Regions from separate parts of the Homo sapiens genome. Here region 1 is linked to region 2. Evidence: fine-mapped expression QTL. Tissue or cell type: cerebellum. Region 2 holds a variant in brackets; the other region holds the start of a gene. All regions are shown on one strand. Distances are from middle to middle.

Region 1 (8,113 bases), 120 kb before region 2:
TTCTCCTGCATCAGCTTCCCGAGTAGCTGGGACTACAGGAGCTCACCACCACGCCCAGCTAATTTTTTTGTATTTTTAGTAGAGACGGGGTTTCACCATGTTGGCCAGGATGGTCTCAATCTCTTGACCTCGTGATCAGCCCACCTTGGCCTCCCAAATTGCTGGGATTACAGGTGTGAGCCACCACATCCAGCCAATTTTTTTTTTCAAAGACAACGCAAATATGACAAAAACAAAATTTATTAACTATAGATATTTATTGCATTATTGTATGTACTTTCCTGTTTAAATATTTTACAATTTAAAAACAATTTTAAGAATTCTCTCAATATTGATCCTCTGGGCACAGTGGCTCATGCCTGTAATCCCAACACTTTCAGAGGCTGAGGCGGGCAGATTGCTTGAGGTCAGGATTTCGAGACCAGCCTGGCCAGCATAGTGAAACCCTGTCTCTACTAAAAATACAAAAAATTAGCTGGACGTGGTGGCACATGCCTGTAATCCTAGCTACTCAGGAGGCTAAGACAGGAGAATCACTTGAACCCTGGAGGCAGAGGTTGTGATGAGCCAAGAACATGCCACTACACTCTAGCCTGGGCAACAGAGTGACACTCTGTCTCAAAATAATAATAATAATAATAAATAAAGAATTCTATCAATATTGATCTAGAGAAAAAATATCAAATTTTCTGCAATTATTAAAAAAATAAAAGAATTCTATCAATATTGATCTAGAGAAAAAATCTCAATTTTCTGCAAAAATTATTGGTTAATTTAAGCCATTTTTATACCTCAAGAAGACCAAAGAGTAATAACCTCTAATATATTTCTTAATAGAAATAATAATATTTTGATATATTTAAATATATCTACCTTAATCATCAATATTGTGGCAATAGATTATATATCTATTTAAAACTATTTCAATTTTTAAGTGTTTTTACATAAAGTACATTTTTAAGTATTTAGTTCACTATTTACTGCACATTAGTTTAAGTTTTTTTTTCTGTTATACTTGTTTCTGCTCTCTTACCATTTTTACATTAAAAAAAAGTGTGAGAGGGCTTTTCAATTAGGTGAATCTAAAGTCTTTTTGGCTAAATTTTTCTAAAATTTTAGTTTAAGAAGTTTTTTTCTTGTTGATTTCTCATCCAGAATACATATTAAAAGGGCATTTGCCACATTAAATTGCATTGAACTTCCTTTTCAAAGCCATTGTACTCATAGAACATGTCTATCTATCCTTGAAGATGAATTTGACTGGAGTCATTTGGCTTCCCTAATCGCTCTGCTTTTAAATTTAATCATGAAGAACTCCGGGTACTCAGTGCTAAGAACTAATGATTGCCCTGAAAATGTCAGTCAGCCTAAGTGACTGACAATTTTTTCTTTGTGAGGTGAGTATATGACATTAAATACTGGTTGAATAAAAGAATAAAAAATCAGAGTAAAGAGATCTTTGTTTTATAAATTAGGTATATTGTTCCTCTAGATCTAATCTAACTATAGTTGTGATTATTTAAATCTGTTCAAAAGGAATGAACTAAATTCTGGTAAAGGAATAAGAGTCCTGAACTGGGAGACCGGGATCACTCTATCAAAATCTGCTGCTAATATGACTGGAGATTTAAACACCTTCATCTTTAAATTATGAGTGCACAACTAGATAATTTCAGTTGTCTCATTCAATTTTATGTTTCTTTCTTTTTCCTTTTTCTTTTTTTTCTTTTTTTTTTTTGAGACGGAGTCTCACTCTTGTCACCCAGGCTAAAGTGCAGTGGCGCAATCTCCGCCTTCTGGGTTCACGCCATTCTCCTGCCTCAGCCTGCCGAGGACCTGGAAGTACAGGTGCCCGCCACCACGCCCAGCTCATCTTGTATTTTAGTAGGAACGGGGTTTCACCACCACGCTGCCGTCAAACTCCTGACTTCAGGTGATCCGCCCACCTCGGCCTTCCAAAGTGCTGGGATTACGGGAGTGAAACACCGCGCCCGGCCGGTTTTTTGTTTCTTAACTGGAGAGCTGGAGCCATTATGAGCAAAATAAACATAAAAGATTTTTTCCGTCCAACCGATGGACTAAGCTAGACGTTGTATCTTCAGCATTTTCTCTTCATGTACACCATTGACTATTCAGCACTATACCTAGCAAATATCAGTCATAAATGAAAACTATAGTCTGTTTTCACAGAAATGTTTCTTGTGATTTTCCCTCTTCGCTATTCTTATTTTCATTGTCTTAACTCAGGTCATCAGCATCTTTTCCCATGAACTACTGAATTTTTCTCCTAACAGACCATGTTCTTCATCTTCCTGCATCCCATGTATCTCCAATGTTTCCAAGGTGTCTTTCTTGATGAAAAAGCACTGATTTTATAAACTTCAATCTCTTCCTTTGGTTTAGAGGTTAAAGCCTAACCCATATATAGAATTCTGCATCTTTCCCAATCAAGTTTTCTTATTTTTCTAGTACAGTCTTTTGCCAATTTCCATCTTCCTTCTTATCTTTGGATTCACATCCCCAACTCCGGAGAAGGCAAAAACATCAAATTTATTTACATCAATCGTTTATTTTTTCCCACTTTATGCTTTTGGCAATGCTGCTCCTGCTGCATAGTATACACTTTCCCCTTTTTATCAGGTGAAATTCTACCTATTTATAAGTCCCTGCTCAAATACTAATCATATTGAAAGCTTCTCTGAATACCTTGGAAGAAAAAGTTCTGCCTCCCTCATCTGAAATCATCTCATAGCACTTTTATGTAACCCTATTTTAGTACTTAACACATTGAGTTATATTTAGTTATTGCCCTTATACTTTCTCTGGTAGATTATGTGCTAATTTCTTTCTTTCTTTATCCATCTATCCATCAAGAATTAATTGAAGACCTGCTATTCATCAGATACTTTGTTAGAATATAGGGGACGGAGTTGTAAGAACTGATTTTAGCTTTAACAAGTTTATTCTTTATATGGAAATCCAACATTTAAGTTAATTTTAATTTACAATATAGAATATTGAGTGCTGTGGTAGGTACTCGTCTCTGCAGAGAATATTTTGGAAAAAAGGAGCATTAAAATCTACTGCATAGGAAGGTAAGAATTAGGCCCAGGGACTTTCTCTGGTTGAGGTCGACCATTCATTTATTAACTATTTAGAGTGGAGTATAATTAATTCTCGATAGATGTCATTAAATACACTTTGTTTCGAGTACGTCGAGGCTTATTCTCTCTAGTGTGTTGGATAAAGGCCACAGGTAGTGAAGATATTTCAGAGATGTGAAGAATCCAGTAGGAATGACAACATCCAGCACTTCCATTCAACCAGATCCCACAGGGAAAATGTCAGTTTTGTGAAGGCAGATACATTAACCACATACAACTCGATTAATATAAACAAATAATCTTATCCATTGAGCTCTCCCACAGACCTTCTTGGGCCCAATCAGACAATAATGAAGTGCAGGCGAGACAGCATTCTGCACTCACATTCCAGGCACTGGTTCAAGTCCCTCCTCCAGGTCCCTCAAGAAAGAGACAGGATGACTGACTTACTGTATATTTGACTCATTTTCCTAGAAAGTGCAGACTCGCTATAAAATGTGTTAGGTGGTGAGAACGCTGATGGTTCACCGTTTTCCTCCACTTTCAGCCTCAGTGCAAACCCTCTGCCCAAAGCCTCGCTCCAGTACGGAGGAGCTGCGCCTTCAACACACTTTCTCTGTTGCCAGGTAACCACTTCTCCCTCAGCCTAGTCTCCAAGGGTCACGAGCCACTTCCGCCTCCCCCTCTCGGGCGCTCCAATCAGCGACCTGTGTAGCTGTCACGTGGGCCTCTGGGGCAGACCCTGGAGATCGGGCTCGCGGCGCCTTCCATCGTGGCTCCGCGCTGGGGCTTGCGGAGCACGCTTCCCGCCCCTCGGAGCCCGCGGGCCCGGCCGCCCCGCCCCCGGGCGCCCTGAGCGAGCAGGCGGGGAGGGCGGGGAGGGTCCGCGCGTTGGTGGTGCTCGCCTCGCAGCTGCGCCCGCCGGCTTCAGCACCTTCCGCTGTCCGCCGCTGCAGCCGCCTCCTCCTCCAGGTAAGAAGCCGGTGGGGCCGCAGAGATACCAAGGCAAGCTCAGGATTGATGTGGGTGATGCTGGAACTGTCGCGGCGTCATGCGAGAGGGGCTCTGACCTCCCTGTGATCGCGGACCAGGGTAATGTACGTCCTGCAGGGCTTTGCACACCATGGTGCCTGATGAGATAATCAACTGAGTTTTAGAGCCACACACCTGATTCTTACAAGGCACAGCAAGCAGCGAATATTTATGTATCTAAACTACCATTGCAGTGTAAACTGTGGACATTTCGAGGGACATTGTTTTATTTTTATGGCTATTAAGTATATGTCTAGAGCCTAGGTTGCTGTTCTCATCCCTCCGCCGGCCAGACACTTCTGTATAGATCATTTACCCCTTTGAAGATGGACTTATTAGTAGGGTTGTACTAAGAAAGGTTTGAGTAAAAAGGAAATGCGTTCCAGAAAAAAGACGGTATTGGATATAAGGCAGGTATACTATTTATTAAGTAGATCGTAAAATAGAATCTTTGCTGTCCTCCCCTCTCCAAAATCAGACTTGTTTTGCTTGCAAAGATTGAAAGGAACAAACAATTTAAGGAGACTTTTTAAATATATTAATTAAAAGCAATTGATTCGAATGAAAAGTAATGAAAAGTCCGACCATGCATCAAAAATAAATTATTTTGCATATTAATATATACATATATACTATATATATTTAACAAGGGTTTGAAGAGAGATACTACATTTCTGAATCTTTCATAAATACCCTTTAGAGAAAACTATCAAAAAAACACAAGTTCGTTGTAAAAGGATACGAAACGGCCAAAGCCCAACAATGTGAGATTATAGTTGCCGTTCTTAGCACTCTAATAACATTTCTGCGTTGTAAAAATTAGAAAATAAATGACAATGAATTTATGAGAATTTATAAATTTGAACTCCACAAGAGTTTAAGCATTAATTTATTTGTAGATTTATGCCTTATCATTACCCTGCTTGCCAGGAGCTGATGCTGGGCGGGTGGTGAAACAAACTCTGTGGAGAAAGCACTCTTACATCCTTTTGAGATTCTGCCTCACTGGCCTAAGTGTTCAAGAAAATGGATATAGTTATATCTAACTGTTTTGAAGGCAGACGTCTGAGATAGGTGGTCTGAGAACCTTTCCCCTCCTATCATCTAAAATTAAATATAGTTATTAAGTGCTTTTGAAAAGTTGTCAATTCGTTAATATTTTGGGAAACATCCTTTACTGGATTGTTTGGAGATTAATGTTACAAATGGTAGCTTTAGAGTTCCTGGGAAGTTTTAAAGCAATGACTTATTTCAAAGGGCATATACGGAAAGTAAAGCTCTTGAGTTCTGCAAACGTAATTATGTAAAAATAACTAGTTGAATGTTATTGTTTACATTGTTCTGACTTTCTCTTGTGTTGATATTAATAGAACTGCTTAAAAAACTGTGGACATCTGAAGAAGACGTTAAATATGCTTACTTGAAAGTTTTAACATTCTTTATTCTTCTTATTTCTAATGATAAATAGTGGTGTTCTAAATATTTTTAAGTTACCCATTAGTCACATAAATAATTCCATAGATTAGAAAGCCATAAATTAATTTAGGCCAGAAAAACAATGCTCCCAGTAGAGGGGAGACTAGGGCTAGATTGCTTTTGTTGTTGCTGTTTTCTACAGACTCTATCTTGTATCCTTTAGTCTGGGAAAGGAGGGACAGGGCCAGTGGCAGTTTTTTAATTACTTGGAGAAGTTTAAGAACAGGTTTCTGTTTGTTTGTTTTATGGTTTTACCCTGATGGATACTAGAAGTCCAACATGAATGATTAGGTTGTCACTATTAATGAAATGTGTAAATTCTCCAGAGTACCTGATTTTGTTGCCTAAATACTTTAATGACGACTAAAATGTAATTCTGACAGTTTTGAAGGATTCACATTTTCATCCTATATTCCAGAATTTCTTTGAAATCTAACATATGCAAGAAAGGTAACGCTTTATCAGATTACTGAATTGTAATACTGAATACTTAAGAGTTTACCCAGCTATTCATGATAATTATGTATATGGAAGCATCATTGCTACTTTTGACCACTGCTGAATTATCTCATTTTACATTTTGTATACCTCTTCCATTGAACAGATGGAAATATTAAAGTGAAGTCATGTATCTTCCAGTACGTCTTCAGGAACAGAGATTTCATCGAAATTATATTAATTTATAGAAATCATATGAGGATAGGCTGCGTGCGGTGGCTCATACCTGTAATCCCGGCACTTTGGGAGGCTGAGGCAGGCGGATCACCTGAGGTGAGGAGTTTGAGACCAGTCTGGCCAACATGGTGAAACCCCATGTGTACTAATAATACAAAAATTAGCTGGGCGTGGTGGTGCACGTCTGTAATCCCAGCTACTTGGGAGGCTGAGGCATGAGAATCTCTTGAACCCAGGAGGCCCGGAGGTTGCAGTGAGCCAAGATTGCGCCACTGCATGCCAGCCTGGGCGACAGAGCAAGACAACGTCAAAAAAATTAAAGAAAAGAAAAAGAAAAAAAGGAGGATATTGGAAGGGATTTTTTATTAATTCATGCTCCTTTTCTTTTGTATCAGAAACATATGAAACTTAAGATTTGGTTGGTACTTTTTGATACCCAAGACTGTGCTTTATCCTGTTAAAATAGTATCGTGATTATTCTTTCATTGTTGATAAAACTATTCCTTGAAATTTGTGAGCAAGAAATTAGATACGGATACCTGAAGAGAATTTTAGAAATTCTCCCAAAGAATCTACTCTATAAGGAAACAAAACCTAGAGAAAAACATTTTTCTTATTTGAGTTTACTTAAAATGTTCACGAAGGACTTGCAACTTTGGTAATAAAAATTGGTAGAAATAATATAAAATGATCAGCTTTGTATAGTAAAAGAAAAATTCCCATCACGATTAATTAGAAAGATTTGAAAAGTTTCCATGCTTAAAGCATGGGCTGTCACATTAGAAGGCAGAGTTCAGGTTGTTTTCATCTGATTTCAGTGACTAGACAGGTATAATTTCAGTGACTAGTCAAACATTTCAAATAGGCTAGATTTTGTAAGAAAAAAAAAGAACTTGATATTGGAGCCACAGCTGGCACCTGCCTTCCAGATGTCACATTATCAGCTACTTGAGGAAAATAATTTATATATATATATTGATAAAAGTCTTACTTTTTATTATGTTAAATGTACTTACAAAGTATTGTTCAGTAAGCTGTCTTATAAAATTCTGTAATTCTACATTCTAATTTAAAAAATGTACTGTAGAAATAGACAGTAATATAAATCTATAATTAAGATAATACAGGAGGTAATTTAACAATGTTATTTGCTATGATAAGGATGATTGATAATTGTCATGTTCGGATAAATTGTAGCAAAAGTGTAAGAAATAAATTTCCATGTGTCAGTGAAGATGTTATAACAGTCAATACTTGTTTTGTACATTCAAATGTTCTGAGATGGAGAACTCAAGATTGAGGTCCTTAAACAATTTTTCTTATGCTTAGGTTTATTGTTTTCTTCTTCCAGATTCTTCCCATTTTTTTTAGTTGTAAGCATGTACCAGTGTCCCAGGCAGACTCATTTACAATGATGTGTAGTAAGTTCAATTTCATATCACGCACACAGAAAACTTACTTTCAAATCGGAAAGTAGAAAATAATTTTTATTACACAAAGCACTCGTGTTTAACATGCTATTAAAAAAACCCTTCATTACAATACAAACAGCTCCACATGGAGTCTCAAAAAAATGAATAGTTGGTTAATAAGAAATAGCTAACATTTAATTAAGTTTGATTCTTTAAGATAAAACATTATGGATGACTTTTAATGAAAAGAGTTATGCAACATTTTATTTTTAAGGTAAACAGGTTTGAAGGGGTCATTTTGGAATTTATGATAGAAGGATCCTTAAGACCAGTTACTCTAACACCGTTATTCTGTTAATGAGGACACTAAACACATAAAAATTATGTTCTCAAAATTAATAAGGGAAAAGCTGG
Region 2 (8,113 bases):
TTTTCCAAAGGAACTATATAGGTTAAAAGTTATTCTCATAATTTTGTACTTTAGATTGTCCCATGAGAGTGCAAGACAACAGATACATTACTTATAGCTGATTAAGATATGCATTTGACCTAGATCTCTTACCTCAGATAAAACTGGATTTTGAACACATTCCCAGTAAGTTATCTGTATCATCCGGGCTTTCTTAGTCTTCTTCAATATTATCTCTCTAAAAATGCAAAATTTAACAAGGAAGTCTCTGGAGGTAGAATTGCTAATAAAACAGTCTGAACTTTCAAAAATGCAGAAAATCTGGTAAGTTTAACTGAAAATTGACATTAGTAATATTCATCTTGGGAGTCAAATGAGACTATTAATGAGCCAGTATCAAACATAAATAATACCAGTTGAAAATTTTCCACATATAAAACATAAAATTACCATGTATATATAAAAGATTATTAATTTTTCAGGACATCAGTCTGCTTTTGTTTCCCTTCAGTTAAAATATGGGGCATAGCAGCAACCAGTGGGAACTTTTAAATTGAACTAAATGTATTGCTAAACACCGAATCAAATTCCAAGAAAAGGATGATTTTCTTTCCCCACAACTTGTTTTCAATAGAAGGGACACCTGTTTTTTTTTAATGGTTTAAGTTCAGGCTGTTCTTAGAGATGATCAAGATGTTCTATGGGCCAAAGTATAATAATCATTCAGAATACGATTTAATTAATGAATGTGATGTGTAACTATATAATAGGCAAAGCAGTAACCTTTAATTTCTAATAAGGAAAGCATATGAAAAAGTAGATTCACCATTCCTACAAAATTATGAGAAAGAACTCTTTATTCATCATGGTGAATTATGTTTATACCTTTAAAATTATTTTTGCTCATTCTGTACTAATTTATTTAATTTTGTATTTTCAACAATGCCTGGCATAGGAGTTTAATAAACAAATTGAATGGAAAAGAAATGTTCTTTAACACAATTATGGAAAAGACACCACTCTATTTATTATTGAAATACATCCAATACTAGGTGATTCTGTTTCTTTATTATGGCTAGAGATGGTGGCATCACTTCTTCAAAGCCATTTGACAGGTGCTTTTCAAGGTTTCTTGTCCATGTTTCTGATAGGTTTCATAGCAGAGTAATAAGAATGTTGTCCAGCTTGCTTCACATGTATTTCTCTATGTGAACTGCCACCACTACCTATATTTGCTGGGACATTTAAATAAGCAAAATTAAAATCAATTCATGGTTACTAAATATTCATACAAGCATCAACATGTCTAATGTATCAAATATATGCAGAATGATTGGCAAGAGGTCAAGCACAGTTAATCTAAATGCCTGGTAAACAAGAATATTTAAATCACGCATTATAGTACTCATGGATTAAAAAAAGTCTGAATGTCAGCCACTTCCAAAAGTCATCAGCCTAAAAATCTCCAGGGCTTATTTTGGTGCATCTGATACTGAATATGACCCAACTATTCTTAGATATTGCTTCAGAAAGCAGCTGAGGCAACAGTAGCACAATTTTATACTTAGATTTGACAAACGTCCATGATTCATAATACAGTTTATGGAGCTCTGATTACACTGAGGCATTCCAGCTAGCCACCCAGACTCTGTAGGTCACTCAGTTCTAATGGGAGGGGCCAGTGGCAACTAAGACATCTATATTCCATTGGCCCATAATTTTGCTAGATAACTAAATTTTGGTGAACAAGTAGAGGAACTTGAGTGTTATAAAAAGAAAAAAGCAAAGGTAACAACCTAACTTACAATTAATTTTGGCCCCCCTGTTTGATAATTAGAAGATTTTCAGGTGAACAGCCTGTGATTTCAGTGCCATTATATGAAATCTTAGATGGTAAAACAGAGTTACGTTCCTACAGTCTAGTGTTTTTGCTTCTCCTCCTTCCATTAACTATCAAACTATGGTAGCAGACCTGAACTATTTACTCTACTCTCTTATCAGAAACTGAAATGAAGTCCTTTGAACAAATTTAGAAAAAATTATTTAACACTTAATAGTTCTCATCCATATAATTACCAAAGCTGAATCCACATCATTCATTAATTTACTATGTGCCTAGATTAAGAGAATCCAAGTATATTATCTGGAACAGGATTGAGACAAGTAAAAAAAATAAATGTATGTTCACCTTCCCATCCTGATCTACCTTGTCCAATGAAGGCTTCCATAAACCCATCTCTTTTTCCAAAGAGAGCAAGACTATTGAGATGAAAGTGAATCATAAAAGAGCAACCAGAGAATCATAAAAAAGAGCAGTAGAGAATAAAATGGGAGGAGTTATTTATGGCCACTTATACATTATTAAAATTGTAAAAGCAAAAATTCATTTTACTTGGAATCCTGATCTGAAGTAATGATAGCATGTAGTTTTTCTAAAAACTCATATGTGAACCTTGAAGATTTTCAAAAAAGATAACAAAAATGAGAAATACTCTTTAGCAATTCAAATATCAGCAGGCATCAGTTTTTGTCTCTGGCCTATTTGCATCTCTTTCTTATACTGGAAGGAAGCCGTGCTGTGACTCATTACTACTCTTTTCTACCTTTTCACTGCATGTCCAAAGCAGGTGACCCTGCTCTTTCCCTTTCCCAGTGAAATTCAGTTAATCATAAGGGGAACGAGGCAAGCAAGTTAAACACAAAAACAAAACTTACCTGCAGTTTCCTTTCCATACCTCCTGATCCCCTCCTCCTATGCTCACCCTACCACTGTGGCTTCACCTCCCTCCCTGCTGGAACTTTCACCACAAATGTCACCAACAGAAGAAGGTTGAGGCAGGCTGAAGGAGAGGATATATTCCTAGAATCTAAAGGTGAAACTATGGATGCATTTTATTCATGGAAACATTGTTATCCACTTCCGTTGGATTCTATTATGTTTACTATGCCTCAGGTGGTTGAAGAGTTAAAGGGATTTTGATGGGCTGGCCTGATGTTTGGACATTAAAAAGTGTGCTATGAGGAACACTAGTTCTACAAGGCCACCAAACAAAGCAAAACCAAATAGTGATGTGTGATCAAATAGAGTTTGGAAAACACTTCATTCTGCTTCTCTCCCCTTTAATATTTACAATGCATATTAGCATATTAAAGGTTCTGAGAAATCATGGTTTTTTTTTGTTTTTTTAAAAAAAGGAACATTGGCACTGCTCTCAAAGACTCTATGTAAACAAATAACTTTTATCCCCGGCGAAATCCCTCAACACGTCAGGAAACATAATCTGTAGCAGAAGTCCACACACATTTTCTGTAAAGGGCTGGAGAGTACATATTTTAGGCTTTGTGGTAGGGTTGCCAGATAAAATATAGGACACCTAGTTAAATTTGAATTTCAGATAAATAATGAATAATTTTTAGTAAAAGTGTGTCCTAAATATGTCCTCAGAGGTATTTGTTGCATTGCCCTGTGTTTTTATTTGCTAAATCTGGCAACTCAACTTTCTAGACTAGACAGTCACCTTGGCAACTACTCAACCCAACTGTTGAAGGGTCAAAGCAGCCGTAAGCAAGGCATAAAATGAGCAGGAGTGGCTCTGTTCCCTGTTATTTATGAGCACGGGAACTTGAATTTCATAGCATTTTTATGTGTCAGGAATTACTATTTTTCTTTTGATTTTTTTTTTAACCATGAAATCCTAGCAGTTTGGGAGGCCGAGGAGGGTGGACTGCCTGAGCTCAGGAGTTCA[G/A]GACCAGCCTGGGCAACACGGTGAAACCCCATCTCTACTAAAATACAAAAAATTAGCCAGGCGTGGCACCGTGCGTTGTAGTCCCAGCTACTCAGGAGGCTGAGTCAGGAGAATCGCTTGAACCCAGGAGGTGGAAGTTGCAGTGAGCCGAGATCACACCACTGCACTCCAGCCTGGGTGACAGAGTGAGACTCCGTCTCCAAAAAAGAAAAAAAGTAAAAACTATTTTTAACTTGTGAACTATACAAAAACAGGCAACAGGCTGAATTTGGACCATGGGCTACAGTTTCCTGTAGTATAAATGCTTTCTGAATTAACAGGGTTTAATCAAGTGACTTCTTGTAATACAACTGATTGAGAATTCTTAGTATGCAAGTATCTATATCTGTCTCAGGACTGACTGACTCATCCTCTGACTACTGAAGAACTGAGCTTTGAACTCTAATGAGCCTGACGTGTTTCCAACTCACCTATTTAAGCATAAATCAGAACTCAGTGGATCTGATTGTAGCAGGCTGGGGAGGGGGCAGCGACTTAGCAGACCACATGTTCCCTTCACTTATCATAAAGAACTGCATACCAGTGTAATTGGCAGTGTAGGACTGAATGTTGACCTATACCAACATTTTAACTATTTAACCGTTTTTTAAAACTTTAATTGAAGAAAGTCAAGCAAAAAAAAATCAATTTTAAGAAGCAAAGAGTTAAAACTTACGTAAAACAGGGACAACTCTTCCTCTTTTAACTTTTAAATTATATCTGCGCCCAGAGGCTTGGGCAGGAAGGTGATTGAGAGTAACTTCTCCCACTGTTGGTTTCACATCAAACCATTCTATAAAATATGAACACAAAAGTTATTTCTTAAAAAGCCATAATGGCCATTGTCAAAATAAGATGCCATAATTTAAAAATTAAGTAAATTATTTAAATTTCTGTTTATCATATTCCTGAGTAGTGTGAATACCTAGGTTAATAGTCCCTCCCCACATTGCTCACAATATATTTAATACACAAAATAGTTACTTTAAAGGTAATATATTTATGTTCCTGTTAGTCTTTGGTAAGTTTTTATTCAATTATAATGTATATACAAAAAGGTAAACAAACAGTAAGTATAATTCACTCCAATGAATGTGTGAGTGAATACACTTAGGGTACCATCATCCAGATCAAGAAATGATGTGTTACCAGTACCCCAAAGCCCCCTCATGTCTTTCCAAGACAGTATTCTAAAAGGAAAATGCTATCCTGACTTCTATCATTATAGGTTAGTTTTATGTATTTTTATATTTGATAAAATCATACAGTATCTTTCATTTTGCACATATTTGTGAATTAAAATTATTTCCATGTTTCCCATATTTCTTTTTAACTAATCCTGTAAACTGAAATACTTGAGCAATTTCCTTGTGCTTCTAAAGATCACTTCCTCCTCTGCAACTCATCCTTCACTGAGGCTTGAAGAAGTTGCTAAGTTAATTCCTACTCACCAGTCATGCTCTGTCAACACTAAACACAACTCTGGCCAGTAACACTGCCAGAACTATAGTTATCACAATTAATTACTTTGGCCACAAATGAGAAATGTTTAAAATCAGCAGTCTCAGGAATCAAGACTGGAAAAAGAGCACTGCTCAAGAATTGGAAGGGTTTAGATGATCTGTAGTTAAAGAAAAAATGTGTTCAAAAGACAACAGAGATACAGGTTAGTTTTCTACAAAGATAGACTTTTAAACAGAAAAGTCAATGATGCCTGATTTGTGGTGTTAAAATATAACTGGACAGAACTGAAATGCTAGACAACGAACTGAAAGGAGGTGAAGGGGTGGCAGCGAGGGATCAGTGTCATAGTGTTCTAAGGTCCTTGCAGTTTCAGGAAGAGAGTAAAGATTAATTTTAGACTAAGATAAATATGCATGCTAAAATGTATAGATTAGCACTAAAAAGAGTAGAGATTTAAAATGTTCAAAATTAGTGGGAAAAAAAATCTTTGGAAAAAAACTTAGTCCAAAAGAAGAAAAGATAGGTAAGATGAAAAGAAGAAACAGAAAAAGAGAAAAAAAAAACTCAAAATAGTATGTTAGATATGAATACATATAACAACGGGCAGTATTAATAAATTCATAACAATAAATCACTGTAAATGAAATAGAAACAATACTTCATAGAAGAACAAATTTTAGGACTTTACAAAGTATCAACACTAATTATAAAGCAATAATAATTAAGATGCTGAAGTGACACACATGTAGACAAACTGGAATAGAAGGTTCAGAAACAGACCCATACATACATGCAAACTGAAACATGAGAGGGCATTACAAATAAGTGGGAAAAGAACAGACTACTCAAAACATGCAGCTGAGGCAATTGGTTCTTCATATGGATTGCAGATGAAGTAACAGTGTAGCAGGACAAGCCGCAGACAAAACCCCTCAGACACCAAGTTAAAGAAGGAAGCAGTTTATTCATCCGGGAACTTCAGCAAGACCCCTGTCTCAAGAGCTGAGCTCTCTGAGTGAGCAATTCCTGTCCCTTTTAAGGGCTCACAACTCTAAGGGGGTGCACGTGAGAGGGTCCTGATTGATTGAGCAAGCAGCGGGTACGTGACTGGGGGCTGCGTGCACCGGTAATTAGAATGGAACAGAACAGGACAGGGATCTTCACAGTGCTTTTCTTTACAATGTCTATAATCTATAGATAACACAACCGATTAGGTCAGGTGTCGATCTTTAACTACCAGGCCCAGGTCGCGGCACTGGGCTGTCTGCCTGTGGATTTCATTTCTGCCTTTTAGTTTTTACTTCTTCTTTCTTTGGAGGCAAAATTGGGCATAAGACGATAGGGGGGTGGTCTCCTCCCTTAACAGATTACAGGTTTTCACTTTAATCAATTTAAACTTTAAAAGGTTTCACTTTAATCAATTTAAATATAGGAGGATATATTTATAATCTCATTATGGGAACAGTGTTAACTATGAAGCTTGTATTTGATTTTCATTCCTGCCATAACAAATTACCACAAATATCATGACTTAAAACAGCCATTTTTATCTCATGGTACAGAAGTCTGTGTCCTCTATTTAGAGTCTCACGAGGCTGAAAGCAAGGTATTGGCAGGGCTGCATTCCTTTCTGGAAGTTCTGGGGATGAATCTTCTCCCAGGCTCACTCAGCTCTTTGGCAGAATGCAGTTTCTTATGTTTGCAGGACTCAGGCCCCTGTTTATTGCCTGGCTGTCAGCCCAAGGTAATTCTTTGCTCCTGGAAGCTGCACCACATACCTTCTCATGCTTTCCATGTTGTCCCTTGTAGCAATAGCAGGTTGAGACCCTATCACACTCCAGATCTCTTACTTCTCCTTCTCCTACATGTGTCTTGATTCCAGCTGAAGAAAGATCTCTGCTTCTAAGGGTTTGTGTGATTAGATCAGGTCTGCCTGAATAAGCCAGCAAACACACCCTATCTTGGGGTCCATAACTTTACATCTGCAAAGTCTCTTTGCAGATGTAAAGTATCATATTCACAGGTTTCAGGGATTAGGACATGGATAGCAGGGGGGCTCATTCTGCCTACTACAGAGTTTCATAAAATCAACTAAACTTAAAAATATATATGAATGAAGTAAAAAATAATATTTAAATAGTATGTATAGGTAAATGAAATAAAGAATAATATATAAATAGTATGTATAGATTTTTTTTTTTTTTTTTGAGACAGAGTCTCACTTTATCACCCAGGCTGGAGTGCAGTGGCACAATCTCGGCTCACTGCAACCTAAGCCTCCTGGGTTCAAGCCATTCTCCTGCTTCAGCCTCCCCAGTAGCTGGGATTACAGGCACACGCCACCATGCCCAGCTAATTTTTGTGTTTTTAGTAGAGACGGGATTTCACCATGTTGGTCAGGCTGGTCTCAAACTTTTGACCTCGTGATCCGCCTGCCTTGGCCTCCCAAAGTGCTGGGATTACAGGCGTGAGCCACCGCACCCGGCCTAGATTTCTAAGTTAAGGAAATTATAAACAAAGGCAGCAGGATGATAGTTACTCTTGGAAGGGAATGTGGAGAATGCAGTCCGAGGACACAAAGGGGAAGGTAAAGGCATTAGTAATGTTCTATTTCTTAACCTGTGTAGGGATATACAAATGTGTTTTCATCGTTAGTCATCTTCTTTAAATTGTACATATACATTATATACGTGCATGTGTGATAAATATCACAGCAAAATTTTAATGTTTAAAAACATGCAAAATGTTTCAAGATAAAACTCTTCTCATTAATAACCTGAATCACGTCTTTATTCATGAATTTATGAGTAAAGCCAGAGATGAGAAAAATCAAGGAAGAGAAAACAAAATATAAGAGATGGAAGAATGGACAAGAGTAAGGAAGG

Evidence for each region. PIP is the estimated chance that this variant, and not a neighbour inherited with it, causes the effect.
Region 1: it holds the start of WDR17, and the variant in region 2 is fine-mapped to the expression of WDR17 in cerebellum (GTEx, PIP 0.98).

What each region holds. Positions count from the first base shown.
Region 1 is chr4:176,062,004-176,070,116 of GRCh38, forward strand. It overlaps WDR17 (WD repeat domain 17), which reads left to right and starts at 3,838. Exons shown (of 29, transcript NM_181265.4): 1 at 3,838-4,076. RefSeq lists a silencer at 3,714-4,093.
Region 2 is chr4:176,183,679-176,191,791 of GRCh38, forward strand. SPATA4 (spermatogenesis associated 4) reads right to left here. Exons shown (of 6, transcript NM_144644.4): 5 at 4,441-4,557; 6 at 901-1,214. The coding sequence ends at 1,102. Among named protein-coding and RNA genes, the nearest start is that of SPATA4, 7.8 kb to the right of the region's middle. The variant G/A (reference allele first, on the strand shown) is at 3,726.